Linked DNA regions of Homo sapiens: region 2 is linked to region 1. Evidence: fine-mapped expression QTL. Tissue or cell type: whole blood. Region 1 holds a variant in brackets; the other region holds the start of a gene. All regions are shown on one strand. Distances are from middle to middle.

Region 1 (8,115 bases):
GGGGAAACTGACTTTGCATACATGAATTAACCCCTCTTTATAGCTAATAAAATTTTTAGAACAGGGTCTCTTCAACTTTGGGCATTAAGCTGACACTTCTCATATGGCTTTTGGCTCTAAGTAGTTCAAATTTTTTACCATTTGGCTCAAATCTGTGTTAGTTCTTCTATGGATGAAAGAAAAAAATGTAGACAATAATACAGAAGAAGGAAATTAATGAAACAACAGAACCTTCCAAGCTCCTTCCTACACCAGGCATCCTGGGGCTGGGCCTCATCCAGCAGCCCAGCTTCTCCTGGATGGCGCATGAGGCTTTTGGAGGGCTTTGAACTACTTTCACAACATCCGCTCTGCTTTCTGGCAGGCAAGCAAGGTTTGGCAGGGATTCCAAAAATACCATGAAAGAGAGAATGCTGTACTTTCAGTTTTTACTCCAAATAGTCAGTGTGTGGCTCGACTCAAGACCTAAGCATTGGAAATGTGTTCCACCAGAGTAGCTACGGGAAGAAAGGGTTCACCGCTCTTGTGACATAGGTCAGAGTAACTCAGAGAGAGTTTCAGTTGGACCCATTAATCATTCCATTAATAACTTATTTTAAAATAAAAGCAGACTTAGCCAAAAGTCAGTGAATGATGAGCTGTTAGAAATTCCTAAATATCTGTATTTAGTGTACAACATAATACGATCAACTTTTGCTCAAGTTCAACTTGGAAGTTTGCTCAACTTCCTAGAAGAATTTCCCTGAAGTGCATTCATTCCAGTACTATCCCAGTGCAGGGATTTTTCTTATTTACGGAATGCACCTGCGGCAAATATAAACATTATTGTTAAAACAGTTTCCTTGTTTCTGCATGAAACTCTGTTGTCTTTGCTTGTCTACACTCCTACTTTGGAGCTTTTAAAACATAAACATTTCCTCTGTGTATGATATATTCTCTGTGCAATATATCATACTCAGAGAAAAGTGCACAAATAGAAAAATTGTGCTTAAAGAATTATCACAAAATAAACACTTCCATACCACTACTACCAGGGTCACAGAAGGACCCGCACCCAGCACTCAGAAGCTCCATTCACATCCCCTCTCAGTCCCATCCTCTCCTCTTCCTCAAAGACAACCACTCTCTTGACTGCTTTGAATTTTAAAAACAATTAGAAATAATTATTATACCCTTCCAACATGAACATGCACACATGTACCAAGTTCTCTCTCTCCTTTGAATAGGTTGATGCACTTTGCTTTTGTTCAGCTTCTTCAGCAAGACCAATTTCCACATCAGCATGTCCTCCTACCTCCTGAGATTAATAGGACTGCATGACATGGGTCCTGTTCTATTTCATCAGCCCCAAGCACTGCACGAGGGATCTATGGAAAGGGCTCCTTCTCACAAATGTCCAGAAAGAGCAGTTCCCTAGCTGGGTGGGGCAGGCAGCCCTGAGCGGGCCCCCAATCTTCTCTGCTTCCTGGTATTCAAGGCCTTGTGTAATCTCCTCCCTGAAAATGAGATGACCCAATGACTTGCTTCTACTGAATAGAATACTGCAAAAGTAATGTGATGTCATTGCTGCCACTGGGTTATAACCCATCTCACTCACTCACTCTCACTGTGTTGCTTGCTCTGAAAGAAGCCAGTTTCCAAGTTGTGACCTGCCCTGTGGAGAAGCCCATGTGGCAAGGAACTGAGGGGAGCCTCTGGCCAACAGCCAGAGGGCAACTGAGACCCTCAGTCCAGCAACCTGAAAGGACCTGAATCCTGCCAATAATTAACATGCAGGAGTTTAGAAACTGATCCCTCTCCATGGAGGAATGAATGCAGCCCCAGCTGACAGCTTGATCACAGCCTTGTGAGAGACCTGGGGGCAGAGGCATTTGAGCAAGCCACACCCAGATTCCTGGCCACAGACACTTTGAAATAATAAATGCTGATTGTTTGGAGTTGCTAAGCTTTGGGATAATTTGTTACCTAGCACTGGATAACCGATACACTGACAGAAAAGCAAAAGCTGCTGAATTCACCAATGACGAGGTCACAGAGACCCATAGGGAATGGTAACACTAATTCTTTTCACAAAGTTGGCCCCCCAGTGGCCAGGTGAGGGCATGGTGCCGTAAAGATCTAGAATCCTGAGTCTGCTGCTCTGTGGAAGGCCTGAGGCCACAGCCTTTCTCCTTCTACTAATGACTCAAACTGCACATGCTCTCCGCGGCCTCTACTTCCTGCTTCTCCCAACGTGGAACTACAGCTTATTATCCGTTGACAGACATTCCATTTCCTTGAATGTCCTTCCCTTGGTATTCATTTCTTCCTGACTCACGGATTTCGTGACAGTGTTCCTAATGCCTCCAGTAATCCACTGTCCCCCTTGGACCACCAAAGCACCCTGAGCACATCTCAACCAGAGTATTTTTGCACTTCATTTTAATCATGTATTTGTTTTCCTCTGTTTCTACACCGGTAGAGTCCATTCAATGGTCCCAGTCACCTAGAATAGTGGCTGGTACATAGTAAGAGTCAGGAAATACTTGCTCAATGAAAACTTTACTCACTCATATCAGCTATCACAGACAAAGAAGACAGTAAAATCCCAACACGCTATGACATATTACATTGAATAATCAAATATATTCATCAGCTTCGTACATACTGTGAAATGGCGGCCAGTGATATCTTTTATTATCGATAAAAATTTTAATATTAAATAAGAGTGAATTTCTCTGCATTTGTATTATCTTTGTATAATTAAAATTTACTTTCTTTTTCCATTCTGGCCTCATTTTTGTAGCCTTTTAGGGTGTTCAGATGTTCTACTGACTAACTGGGACGCCTAAGAGCCACTCAGCCTGCCTTTGTAGCCTTGTCCTTTCAATTGCTGACATTTCTTCCTGGAAAATGACTTAAGTTCTTAATGCCAAAGGCCACAGACAAAACAAAATTCACTTACAGAATCTATCAAAGCTTTTCAGATAAATCGTCTGCTAAATCAGGAGCATTTTACAAAGTATCCTGGCCTCCACCTGTTCATGTTATAATCTAAATGTGAAAGCAGGACACTTTTGTTATGAAGAACCATTTCAGCTCAGGGAGGGCCTGAAAATAGCTTCAGTACTTCCTGTACACTTTCCCTTATTCCCATTGTGAAAACATCTGCTGGTCTATTACCACAGAGTGTGTACTTCCCACTGTCGGGCTCTCATGGTGCTCCTTGGCTGCAGTGCCCACAGCTGACAATCACTACATCTTTGCTGCAGCTGAAATCAAGACATTTCCTTCTGGATGCAGTCCTGAAGACTGGTACCCTTGTATGAATCAGATGAAAATTCGAGATCTTATTTATACGACTGTTTATTCTCACCAGTTGATGATCTCTGTCTCTCATCAACATTTATTGAACCAGGTACTGTGCTAGGTATAAGGGTTAAAAAACAAATTATGCATGGTCCTTGCTGTCCAGAAGCTTAAAATTTGAAATTTTATATCAGAGTGAATGCAAACATCAAGGCCTATTGTGAAAAACTGCCTTGGGCGCTACTGTGTGAATGTCCTAGTGCTTTAAGAACGTCAAGATCATCTTGCCCTATAAAGGTTATATTTACTTTTACAGCCCTTCCCTGCAACCACACAAACATGCTGTGATTAGCAAGAATCTCTCTGCAGAACCAGCCGTTCCTTGCCCCACATCCATAGAGTTCATCCACAATTTGAAATTTTGTTACCTTTAATGTGCTATTCAATGTTCGGATTTTGTGGAGTTTCTCGTTTATAGATGGATTTTTACACCGCTTAACAAAGGATTTTCTCAACTCCTTTTTAGTCGAAGGTCGTCGGTCCCCAAGAGGAGATAGACTAGCTTGCTCTAATGATTTGTACAGCTTCTCCATTTCATCATCTTCAGACACTTTTGTCTCTTCTATTTGAAAAAAAAAAAGAAAGCAGTAACAATAAACCCAGTGAAAAATCAAGGAGAGAACATTCAATACTGTGGTCCCAAGGCACGGCCCCACTGGCACCCTCATCTCAGACTTCTCTCCGGAACTGAAAGACAATAAATGTTTGCTGTCTAAGCCACCCAGTTTG[C/T]GATACTTTGTTACTGCAGAGCCACGTTCCCTGTGAAGGCACCAGGGAAGGAGTTATTCCAAGCCTCTCTCCTGGCTTCAAGTGGTTTTTTGGTTTGTGGCAGTATAACTCCAATATTCACATGGGGTGTTCCCTGCATGCATGTCTCTGTGTCCAAACTCCCCCTATTTATGAGGGTATCAGTCATGTTGGATTAGAAACCTGCCCTATTAACTCATCTTAACTAGTTAAATCTGCAACAACCCCATTTCCCAATAAGGTCACATTCTGAGGTATTAGGGGTTAGGACGTCAACATACGAATTTTATTAATTAATTAATTAATTTTATTATTATTTTTTTTGAGACGGAGTTTTACTGCTGTTGCCCAGGCTAAAGTGAAATGGCACAATCTTGGCTCACTGAAACCTACACCTCCCAGGTTCAAGTGATTCTCCTGTCTCAGCCTCCCAAGTAGCTGGGATTACAGGCACCTGCCACCATGCCCGGCTCATTTTTATATTTTTAGTACAGACAGGGTTTCACCATGTTGCCCAGGCTGGTCTTGAACTCCTGACTTTGGGTGATCCGCCCACCTTGGCCTCCCAAAGTGCTGGGATTACAGGTGTGAGCCACCACGCCCAGCCCAACATATGAATTTTAGAGGGACACAATTCAACCCATACATAGTCCACCCTCCGGCCTCCTAAATTCATGTGTTTCTCACGTGCAATATATTCACCTCATCCCAACAACTCCAAAAGTCTTAACCCATTCCACCATCAACTCTAAGACCAAAAGCTCACCCAAATATCATCCAGGCTGGGTGTGGTGGCTCACGCCTGTAATCCCAACACTTTGGGAGGCCAAGGCAGGAGGATCGCCTGAGCTCAGGAGTTTGAGACCACACTTGACAACATGGTAAAACCCGTTGTCTACTAAAATACAAAAAATTAGCTGGGTGTGGTGGTGCGTGCCTGTCATCCCAGCTACTCAGGAGACTGAGACACGAGAATCACTTGAGCCTGGGAGGTGGAGGTTGCAGTGAGCTGAGATCACACCACTGCACTCCAGCCTGGGCTACAGAGTGAGACTCTGTCACACACACACACACAAAATATCATCTAAACCAGGTATTGCTGAAACTCAGTGGGGGAGTGATTCATCCTGAGACAAAATTCATCTCCATCTTTAAACCCATGCAAGTCGACAAATATCTGCTTCTAAAACACAGTGTGGGACAAATAAGCCCTAGCAAATTATACACATGCTAAAGTTTGAGAACTACTGCCCTAGATGATTGCTTAATGTCCTTCCCAGAACTACCCTTGGAGAGAAGAAACCTGTCTGTGGTCTGTGGTTTTGAGTAGAAAGTGATCATTCCTCATCTTGCCACACAGACTCCATCTCCCTTCCTAACCACACTTTGCCAGCCTCGGCCCACATGATTGCAGTGAAGCCACTCCACCACAGGATCTACTGGGGACCATGTGGACTAGACGAGGCCAATGGCAGTTCCACCATTCTGGCCACAGTCACTGATTCAGAGATAAACATGTGCCTCTGGTCAGGCCATTTGGGGCCAAGGAGACTCAGTTCCAAGACTTTGGAGTATCAGATAAGTAATCTCTCTTTTTTCTTAAGCTGAATGTTGTGATAGTGTGAGCTGGAAGTTTCCAGGAAGTATCCCAAGAATAATGATATGGAAGCCAACCCATTCTGAGACACAGATCTTGATGATACCGTTGGAGCCCTCTCAGCCTGTGGGAGCTAATATGTTACCCATGTTAAGCTACCCTGGCTTTGGTTTCCAATCATATGCACCTGGAAGGGCCTCAAATGATACAGAGGTTACTCAAAGAAAATCTTCATCCTTTGATGTTGCTTTAATTTCTCACTAAGAACGTTAGTCTATTTTTCCTTTATTCCTTGGAAGAAAGCTTGGGAAAGAAATACAATGAGATTTCTTTTTCCACCACATACTCCTTAATGTTTATATGTTTCACTTCCTGTCCAAAGAACCAGCTTGAAAGAGGACTCTATAGAAAGTATGGCATTAGAGGAACTAGAAAAACAGCCTCTCCATAGGGTGGAGAAAAGCATATAATGGTGACCTAGGAGCATCAAAACCAAGCAAACTTCACATGCCTTAGAGTTTACTCCTCTACGATTAGAAACCTTTATGCAAGAATTAGTTTCCCCTATCCATCCCAGAAAGTCACCAATACTCTTTCATAAAACAGAAAGCAAAGATGATGCACTCACTTCATAGCTGACTTAAAATGTTCATCAGCACAACCTCCTTTTTCTCTACCAAACCGTCTCACAAAAGGGAAGAAAATACTCAAAACTACATCTGAAGACAATTAGACTTTTGGCTCACACCGTGTGCAGACATCAAAAGTGGGCTTTTGTCAATAAGCACATGAAAAGATGCTCAGTATCATCAGTCATGAGGGAAATGCAAGCCAAAACCATCATGAGATGTCCCTTCACACCCAGGGTGGCTACAATTAAAAAGACAGACAGTAGTAAGTGTGGATGAGGATGTGGATAAATTGGAACCCTCATACATTGTTAGTGGGAATGTAAAACAGAGCTGCTACTTTTATTTTATTGTTTATTTTTTAAAGACAGGGTCTTGGTCTATCACCTGGGCTGGAGTGCAGTGGCATGATCATAGCTCATTGCAGCCTTGAACTCCTGGACTCACTAGATTCTCCTGCCTCAGCCTCTCAAGTAGCTGGGACTACAGGTGCATGCCACCATGCTCAGCTAATTGAGTTGCCACTTTAGAAAATAGTTTGTCCATTTCTCATGGAGTTTAGCATGTGCCCCAGCAATTACACTCCTACATAAATACCCAAGAGAATTGAAAACATATATTCACACAAAAATTGTACATGAATGTTCACGGCAGCATTATTCATAACAGACTCAACTTGGGAAGATCCTAAATGTTCATCAGCTGATGAAAGGATAAACAAAATGTGGCATTTGCATGTGACAGAATAGTATTCAATAATTAAAATAAATACTCAGTTGTCCACAATACTTCAACATGGGTGAACCTTGAAAACATTTTGCTAAGTAAAAGAAGCCAGTCACAAACAACCACATATTGCGTGATTCCATTTATATGAAATGTCCAGATTAGATGAACCCACAGAGACAGAAACCAGAATAATAATTGCCTGGGGTCTGGGAGGGGACAAGCAGGAGTGGAGAATGGCAGCTAATGTGTAAGGATTTCTTTTTGTGATGCTGAAATGTTCCAAAATTAGATTGTGATGACAGCTGCACAATTCCAAATATACTAAAAACCAATGAACTGTACACTTTCATGTGTGAATGTTATGGTATGTGAAATATATCTCAATAAAACTATAAAAAGTAGTCATTTATGAGATTGTCATGAGAGCTGATGCTACATAGCAGAAATACTAAGCATGGCCACAGTCATGGGGTCAAGCTGGAGACACTGGAAAGTCTTAAAGAAGTTAAGTGGAAAGAAATCTGACTCCTGAAGGGGGGCATTAGGATTGAAGACTTAGAGTTTTCAGTTTTAAGACACAGTAATTTTACATGTCCTTTTACTTTTTAAAAAAATACAGCTAACAAGGTAGAATTCTACTTAGATTAAGGCATAAACACATAGCTTTCAATACCACAGTATTTTTGAATTAAGGAATATATGTTTAACAAACATCAACAAGCAAACCAAACAAGAGTATGACAAAGATAAATAGAATGGTTTCTTTACATTTCTCTGTGTTCACCAAGTAGCTACATTGTGCTACTAAAGATTGTGATAGAAAACAACTTACCAATTGAGCCACTAAAAGAAAAAAATATTTTTGACTAAAACATTTTGTTTGTAATTATGTCACAGTAAAAATTATTATCATTGCTTCCAAGATAGCCAAATAGGAACAGCTCCAGTCTACAACTCCCAGTGAAATCAATGCAGAAGACAGGTGATTTCTGCATTCCCAACTGAAGTACCTGGTTCATCTCATTGGGACTGGTTGGACAGTGGGTGCAGCCCATGGAGGGTGAG
Region 2 (8,115 bases), 190 kb after region 1:
ATTCAGACTTCTTTTGAAAGACTCATCCACATTCTAGTAACTTTGGGCTGAGTTTAAGCTGGCTCACTTTTCACCTTTCAGCTGCTTCTATGTCAATCCCTGTGTCAGTCTGGGAGACCTGTCTTTGCTCACATTTGTTCAGCCCTTTGCCTTTTTGTCTGCCGACTATCTCTCCTTTCTAAGACAAAGATTGATTCTAAGACAAAGACAGAAGATTCTTTTCAATGCCTACAAGCCAAAATATTTTATTTTGGTTACGTCCCTGATAAGGGACTCCATGGTGACCTGCTGGCCCTGTGAGACGGCAGGGCCAAGATTCTAACAACAGGAATGATAATTCTTGAATCTATAAAATAATCTGTGACTCTATAGAAATGTTTTTATGACCTCTCCCTATGAGTACCAAGATGATAAACATATGGCAACATTCCCTAAGAAATGTATTAACAATTATATTGGGAGATTTAAATTTAACTTATAATTAATAACTGACAAATTGACTATTGCATTTTTTAGGAAATCATCAAACTCAGGTTTAGACGCAGTTATAAGTCATCCAGAGAAAATAACCCATTTTCATGTCATTCTAGGAATTAATCAGACCAGCCAGCCCCAGTGGGACCACGTTTCCTTTTTCTCACTTCAGAGTTGACACATGATTCTGCACCAGCCTTACTCTCAAAGGGGATTTCCCTACAAAGACTAAATAACATAAATTTTAAGTGTCATTTCTTAGACTGCAATGAACCATGAACTTCAGCACACTATCACTAAAACATTGCTTTTGTCGTCCTGTTGGTGGAAGATTTAAGGAGGGTTACATTTTTGTCCATTTCTTTTCTTTTCCTTTTCCTTTTTTTTTTTTTTTTTTTTGAGATGAAGTCTCCCTCATTGCCCAGGCTGGAGTGCAGCTGCGTGATCTCGGCTCACTGCGCCTCCCGGATTCAAGTGGTTCTTGTGCCTCAGCCTCTTGAGTAGCTGGGATTACGTGCGCCCGCACCATGCCCAGCTAATTTTTGTATTTTTGGTAGAAACAGGGTTTCGCCATGTTGGCCAGAGTGGTTTGGAACTCCTGACCTCAGGTGATCCGCCCGCCTTGGCCTCCCAAAGTCCTGGGATTACAGGCATGAGAGCCACCGCACCCGGGCCTATTTACTTTCTTTCAACGTTTGTTTTATTTTCAGATTATTAAAATAGTTCAGGTATGTTCCACTAATGAAAAATCTGGGAAGAAAATAGAGTACAAAGTACAAAGAAAGAAGAACCACGAGCTATAAGCCCACTACTCATATATTAACATTTTAATGCATTTCACCCAAATCTTGCTTCTCTGCAGTATTTTTACATAGTTGAAAAAGTTATGTTCCTCCTTTTTGGACTTAGCATTACATCATGAGACTATTTCCATAAATATCATTTTCTTGATGACATTTCTTTATATACCACCATGTGTTCAACCATTCTGATAACTAGGCTTATCATATTTATTTTAAATTAATGATTCTTTTAAAAACTCACTTTCACTTTACAAAATTCAGAAAATGCACAAAGCATAAAGAAAAAAAGAGAAATTAGAGATTAAATTTTTAAGCGTGGCTCTGGCAACTTGAAAACTGATATCGATAACTGCCATTTAATGCAATCATATTTTTAACCCTCACACAACAACCCAAAAAGTCAATATGTTATAGTCACCACTTTATAGGTTCGGAGGTCACAGAGCTGGTAGGTTCAGAGATATAGATTTTGAACAGATATGTCTGAGCCCCCAACTGTGTTTTCTCTTGGCTAAATTATACTGACCTTCCCATGATTACCTCCACCATTACCTCTACTACCATCACCTCCAACCACCATCTCCGCCATCTGTACCATCACCTCTACCATCACTTCCTCAACCATCTCCACCATGTCTACCATCACTTCTACCATCTGTCACCTCCACCGTCACCTCCAACCACCATCTCCACCACCACCTCCACCACCACCTCCACCATCTCCTCCACCACCACCTCCACCATCTCCTCCACAACCACCTCCACCATCTCTACCGTCACTTCCACCATCACCTCTACCACTCCAATCACCATTTCTACCATCTCCATTACCACCTCCACCATCGCCTCCACAACCACCTCTACCATCTCCACCGTCACTTCCACCATCACCTCCCCTACGACCACCACTTCCAACACCACCCCCTTTATCTCCACCTCCACCTCCACCACCATGTATCGCCAACCCTTTCACTTTACTGACCTGGGGATTTTTCTGATCCCCGTTCTACACACCCTTTCTTTACTCCACACCTTCATATTCTCCTCTCCTCCTCCACTCTGATCTTTTCTAACATTCACTTTTTAAAGTGCCTGAGTAACAGAGATAAAGCAATGGCTTTCCTACCACATTCATTTTATGAATTATGCCAGTTATTCATTCATTCAACAAATATTTACTGAGAGCAGGCACTGTTCTGAGCACTTGGGAGCACAAGTAACTCCTCCATTTGCAGGATTCTCTTTAAGGCTAAAAAGCTTATTTTTTAGGATTTTTCTTCACACACACACACACACACACACACACACACACACACACACACACACACCATTTGCCACATTAGACCTACTTGCAAATTGTTAACCTGTACTGCAATTATCAGCTCACACTGCAGAGCCTCCAAGCTGGATGGAAAGCAGAAGTGAGCTGTTCAAAAGGATGCACGAGTCAAAAGGAAAGTCTCAGGCAATAGTGATGAAGTAATTTCTTATCTCTTATTGCCACAGCAAACTACCGCAGGAAAGAACTTCCTATTTCCATACTCTGATGATGTATATTTGCTTAACACAGCTTGCCTGAAATAGTTCATACATGGACCCACTCCAGAAAAGACACTTGATTTATAAAAAGAGGAATGGAAGGAAATTATAAGGTAAATTAAAGAATGAGTTCATCAACACATACACAAACTTACACCCTTTTCTTCCTTGCTTGCATGATGTGAGCAGAAAGAAATGTGTGTTCTTTCCATTTCTGTTTCTTTTCTTTCTTTCTTTCTTTTTTTTTTTTGAGATGAACTCTTGCTCTGTCACCCAGGCTGAAGTGCAGTGGCGCAATCTCAGCTCACTGCAACCTCCGCTTCCCGGGTTCAAGCAATTCTCCTGCCTCAGCTTCCCAGGTAGCTGGGATTACAGGTGCATGCTCCCACGCCCAGTTAATTTTTGTATTTTTAGTAGAGACGGGGTTTCATCATGTTGGCCAGGCTGGTCTCGAACTCCTGACCTCAGATGATCCACCCGCCTTGGGCTCCCAAAGTGCTGGGATTACAAGCGTGAGCCACCGCACCCGGCATTCTATTTTCTATTTTCTTTTCTTTCTTTTTTTTTTTCTTCCTGTAGAGATGAGGTCTCATTATTTTGCCCCCAGGCTGGTCTCAAACTCCTGACCTCAAGTGATCCTCTCGCCGTGGTCACCCAAAGTACTGGGATTACAGGTGTGAGCCATTGTGCCCAGCCCTCGGTTTCAATTTTCTACATAAAATAAATAACTCGATAGAAATTAGACTTTATCAAGGACAGCACTAGGAACACATAGGCCACTCAAGACTAATAGAGCCCACTGCTGTAGTCAAAGATGCTTCAGTGGGTTATAATTCTGACTTCTATAATTAAATACTTTCACATATACCCCAGCAAAGAAAAATCAAGTGCCCCAGACACCCTTACTAAAAGACTCTGAACCAACAACACCTAGCTTTCATTTTTATACCAGAGATATTTTGGCAAGCCTGAGACCTTTATCAAAGTGTAAAATGTCCCCCAGCTGCCTCCATGCAAAGGAAGCTCCCTTGCAAAGAACACACTTTCTCGAAAGAGGGCGGCCCCAGAGTGCTTCCCCAAATGAACTCCTCAGGACCCAAATACATGCTGAATTGTGCTTTTCTAAATCAAACCTGTGGTCTGCAGTCTAAACACCTATCAAGACAACACCCATTTAAGAAACATAAAAGCAGAGTGAGTACACAACTCTCTCCTCTTTCAAAGCTTTCACAGAATTAAAGAATCTTTAGCACCTGGCTTCCCAGATTACAGAGAGCTGAGTGAATATTACATCCCCAAAGTCATATTTCCTACCTCACTACTCTAAGGAGAGTGCTAGGGTATCCATTGCTTTGCCATCTTGATCTGTCAAGCAGTTACCTCTCATACATCAGCCAAGAAGTGACGTTACTTACATGCAATACAAAGAGAGTAAATCCAAGAGCAGTCTTATTCCTGGATTCAGAAGCCTCATAGTACTCTGAGGCCAAGCTTGAGGATTCTACTTAAAGCAGCCTCAGCTCTGGAAACTCAGTCAACCCAGAACTAACATTCAAAGCTGATCAGAGAGTAAAGCTCTTTCGAAAGAAGAGGAAGTATCATCTCCACTTCCTCAATCCTAACGTTCTTCCTTCTCATTGTTATGAAACCCTTCCTTGATGCCCATATCCAGGACACAGTACATGTAAGGCAAGCACACCCCATCTGCCTGAGTTCATTGATCACTAAGCACTGCCCAGTGTATTCATTTGCCGAGCACATTGGTGGAACAGTTCATGGTTCTGCTTTCCTGTTTTGGAGGCAAGGATGTTCATTTACAGGCATGGAGGGTGAGATGATCTGCAGAGTCATTCTCAGCATTTTTGGGTGAAATGCCACTTCAACCTCTTTAGGTTCAATCTTCTTTCAGATTTCCCTCTTTCCTCCTTTCCTAATCGTTCATAATGCTCTAATAAAGAGAGGGTACAGACACATTTGTAAAACGTATTTTAGGATAAAAATAAGTCTTAGCCTGCCATCTTTTGCAGTAGACATAGAAGAGTCTCTAACCACAAAACTTTTCTTTCCCACATTGGAAAAGGAAAATGGCAGGCTGAAAGTCAGAGATATTCCATCTCATTACAAATTCCTGCCCTCCCAATCTCCCTTTCAACACCAGCTTCTTGTTTCTCTATACCTTCTAGGGAAATGAATACAGCTGGGCGTGGTGGCAGATGCCTGTAATCCCAACCACTCAGGAGGCTGAGGCAGGAGAATTGCTTGAACCTGGGAGGCAGAGGTTGCAGTGAGCCGAGATCGCACCACTGAACTCCAGACTAGGAGACAGAGCAAGACTCCAACTCAAAATAAATAAATAAATAAATATGTATGTGTATATATATATATAATATATATATATAATATATATATTATATATATATTATATATATATTATATATAATATATATATTATATATATATTATATATATAATATATATATTATATATATTATATATATATAATATATAAAATATATATATTATATATATAAAATATATATAATATATATAATATATATATAAAATATATATAATATATATAATATATATATAAAATATATATATAAAATATATATATATATAAAATATATATATATAATATATATATAAAATATATATATATAATATATATATAAAATATATATATATAATATATATATAAAATATATATATATATATATATATATATATATAGAATATATAGAATATATAGAAACCTAATCCCCAATGTGATTGTATTTAGAGGTGGACCTTTGGGGAGTGATTAGGTCATGAGGACAGTGCCCTCATGAATGGTATTAATTTTCTTATTAAAGAGAACCTGGAGATCTGCCCACCCCTCCACCATATGAGGACATGGCCAGAAGACAGTCACCTAGGAACGAGGAAGCAGGTCCTCACCAGACAATGAATCTGCTGGCGCCTTGATCTTGGATGTCCAGCCTCCAGAACTGTGAGAAATAAATGTCTTTTGTTTGTAAGCCACCCAGGCTACGGTGTTTTGATATAACAGCCTGAATGACTAAGACAAAGATAAAATGTAAACTAAATCTGTGGAGGAGTGAAAAAATGAAAGAAGATGCTGTACATTTTGAGCAGGAACAAAATGAAGGTTCTCTCAGCGGCTTCTTGTTTGTGTACACTTCTATTTCTGGAAGTGCTGCCTCATCTTCTCCCTATATTGAGTTGTCTTCTAGTTCCCTGCTTTACGTAGAAAAAAAAATGGTACTAGGTGATATTAAAGGAATTTAGTGGTATCAACAGCATGGCCTGGCTTCTCACCAGACATTTAGATGCCATCATCAAAGATATCCTCAAAAGACATGTTATTTACCTTTATGGGGCCAGAATAGAGCCACTTAAATTCTTTGAGCAAAGATGATTTGTAGAATTAGAATAATCCTCAAAACGGCCGGACTGTCAGTTCAAGATGACGGGCTGACCACAGATTTGCTCCCTCCCTCCCCAAAGACTCCGTTAAAATGAGAAAAGTATAAAAAGTTTATAGGGCCGGGCACGGTGGCTCACACCTGTAATCCCAACACTTTGGGAGCCCCAGGCTGGCAGATCATGAGGTCAGGAGATCGAGACCATCCTGGCTAACATGGTGAAACCTGTCTCTACTAAAAATACAAAAAATTAGCCACGCCTGGTGGCACGAGCCTGTAATCCCAGCTTCTCAGAAGGCTGAGGCAGGAGAATCGTTTGAACCTGGGAGGCGGAGGTTGCAGTGACCTGAGATCGCGCCACTGCACTCCAGCCTGGGTGACAGAGCGAGATTCCGTCTCAAAAGAAAAAAAAAGATATAAACCCACAATAACCCAAAAAAGGAGGAAAAGCATCAGAACTTGGGAGAGCACAACAGATTTCTGGCAGCCTGAAAGCCGATGGAGGAGCAATAACAGATGGAGGCAGGCAGGGGAACCACAATATCTCATTAGTTAGGAGAACACGGCGTTGGAGGAAATTGCCCGTGTGCGGTGCTGAATCCCTGAGAGGACCGGAACTCAAGCCAAAAGAAGCTAAGAGAGCTAAATGAGTGATAGGGTGACAGGACTGAAAACAGGAAGAGTAATTCAAAGTCTGTAAGAACTCAGCCCCTCCCATACCCCTCTTTCAAATCTCTCTGTCCGCCCAGCCTCTGCACAGCAAACACACACAATTCCAACCCCGGGCAGCATACCGAGGATTCGTCTCTACACATAGTGAAATCATGCAGAGAATACAGGCATTGTATGTGGATATGAGCACTCCACAGTCAGAACTCCACATTCTGGCAATAAGAGCCTCATCTAGCATGTGCTGGATGATGGATGATGTGCTTTTTTTTTTTTTTTTTTTTTTGAGACAGAGTCTTGCTCTGTCACCCAGGCTGGAGTGCAGTGGCATTAATTATCTCGGCTCACTGCAACCTCCGCCTCCAGGGTTCAAGTGATTCTCCTGCCTCAGCCTCCTGAGTAGCCAGGATTACAGATATGTGCCACCACACCCAGCTATGTTTTGTATTTTTAGTAGAGACAGTGTTTCACCATGCCGGCCAGACTGGTCTCAAACTCCTGACCTCAGGTGATCTGTGCACCTTGGCCTCCCAAAGTGATGGGATTACAGGCATGAGTCACCACGCCTGGCCTAGATATGCTTCTAATCAGTATCCTTAGAGACAGTCCTGAAGATATTGTATCCATTAAAAAGAACAGGATGCTAAGAAAGATAGATAATCTGAAAACAAGAAAGACCCCTTGGATATTGCAAATATAATTGTTAAATAAAGATTTTGATAGGTTGGGTGATAAATTCAAGTGAAATTTTCAGGAAATATTATTTGATGACATAGTCAAAGAAATAACATAAAGGATCCCCCTGAAGTCCAAGAATATTTAGATTAAAAAGTCTCATCGAGTGCCTAGGATGAAGAATTTCAAGTCACTGCAAAATTTCCAAACTCCGGAAATAAAGAGAAAATCTTAAAATCTCCCAAACACAGAAAATAAGTCACTTTCACAGAAACAAGGAATCAAAGGGCTCCAGATTTCACAGAAGTAGCATTAAGGGTTAGAAGGTCAGCGAGCACAGCCTTCAAAGTTCTGAAGGATTTATATTTCACTCTAGAATTTTGTGTTCATTCATCCAGTGTATTAGTCCATTTTCATACTGCCATAAAGAACTGCCAGAGACTGGGTAATTTCTAAAGGAAAGAGGTTTAATTGACTCTTATAAATTAAAGAGGTTTAATTCAGCATGGCTAGGGAGGCCTCAGGAA

What was found. PIP is the estimated chance that this variant, and not a neighbour inherited with it, causes the effect.
Region 2: IPCEF1 starts here. The variant in region 1 is fine-mapped to the expression of IPCEF1 in whole blood (INTERVAL, PIP above 0.99).

What each region holds. Positions count from the first base shown.
Region 1 is chr6:154,164,204-154,172,318 of GRCh38, forward strand. It overlaps IPCEF1 (interaction protein for cytohesin exchange factors 1), which reads right to left. Exons shown (of 12, transcript NM_001130700.2): 11 at 3,717-3,910. It also overlaps a transcript of OPRM1 not described here. Among named protein-coding and RNA genes, the nearest start is that of OPRM1, 130 kb to the left of the region's middle. The variant C/T (reference allele first, on the strand shown) is at 4,078.
Region 2 is chr6:154,352,441-154,360,555 of GRCh38, forward strand. It overlaps IPCEF1 (interaction protein for cytohesin exchange factors 1), which reads right to left and starts at 4,363. Exons shown (of 12, transcript NM_001130700.2): 1 at 4,232-4,363. It overlaps LOC105378067 (a long non-coding RNA gene), which reads right to left. Exons shown (of 3, transcript XR_007059823.1): 3 at 7,453-8,115.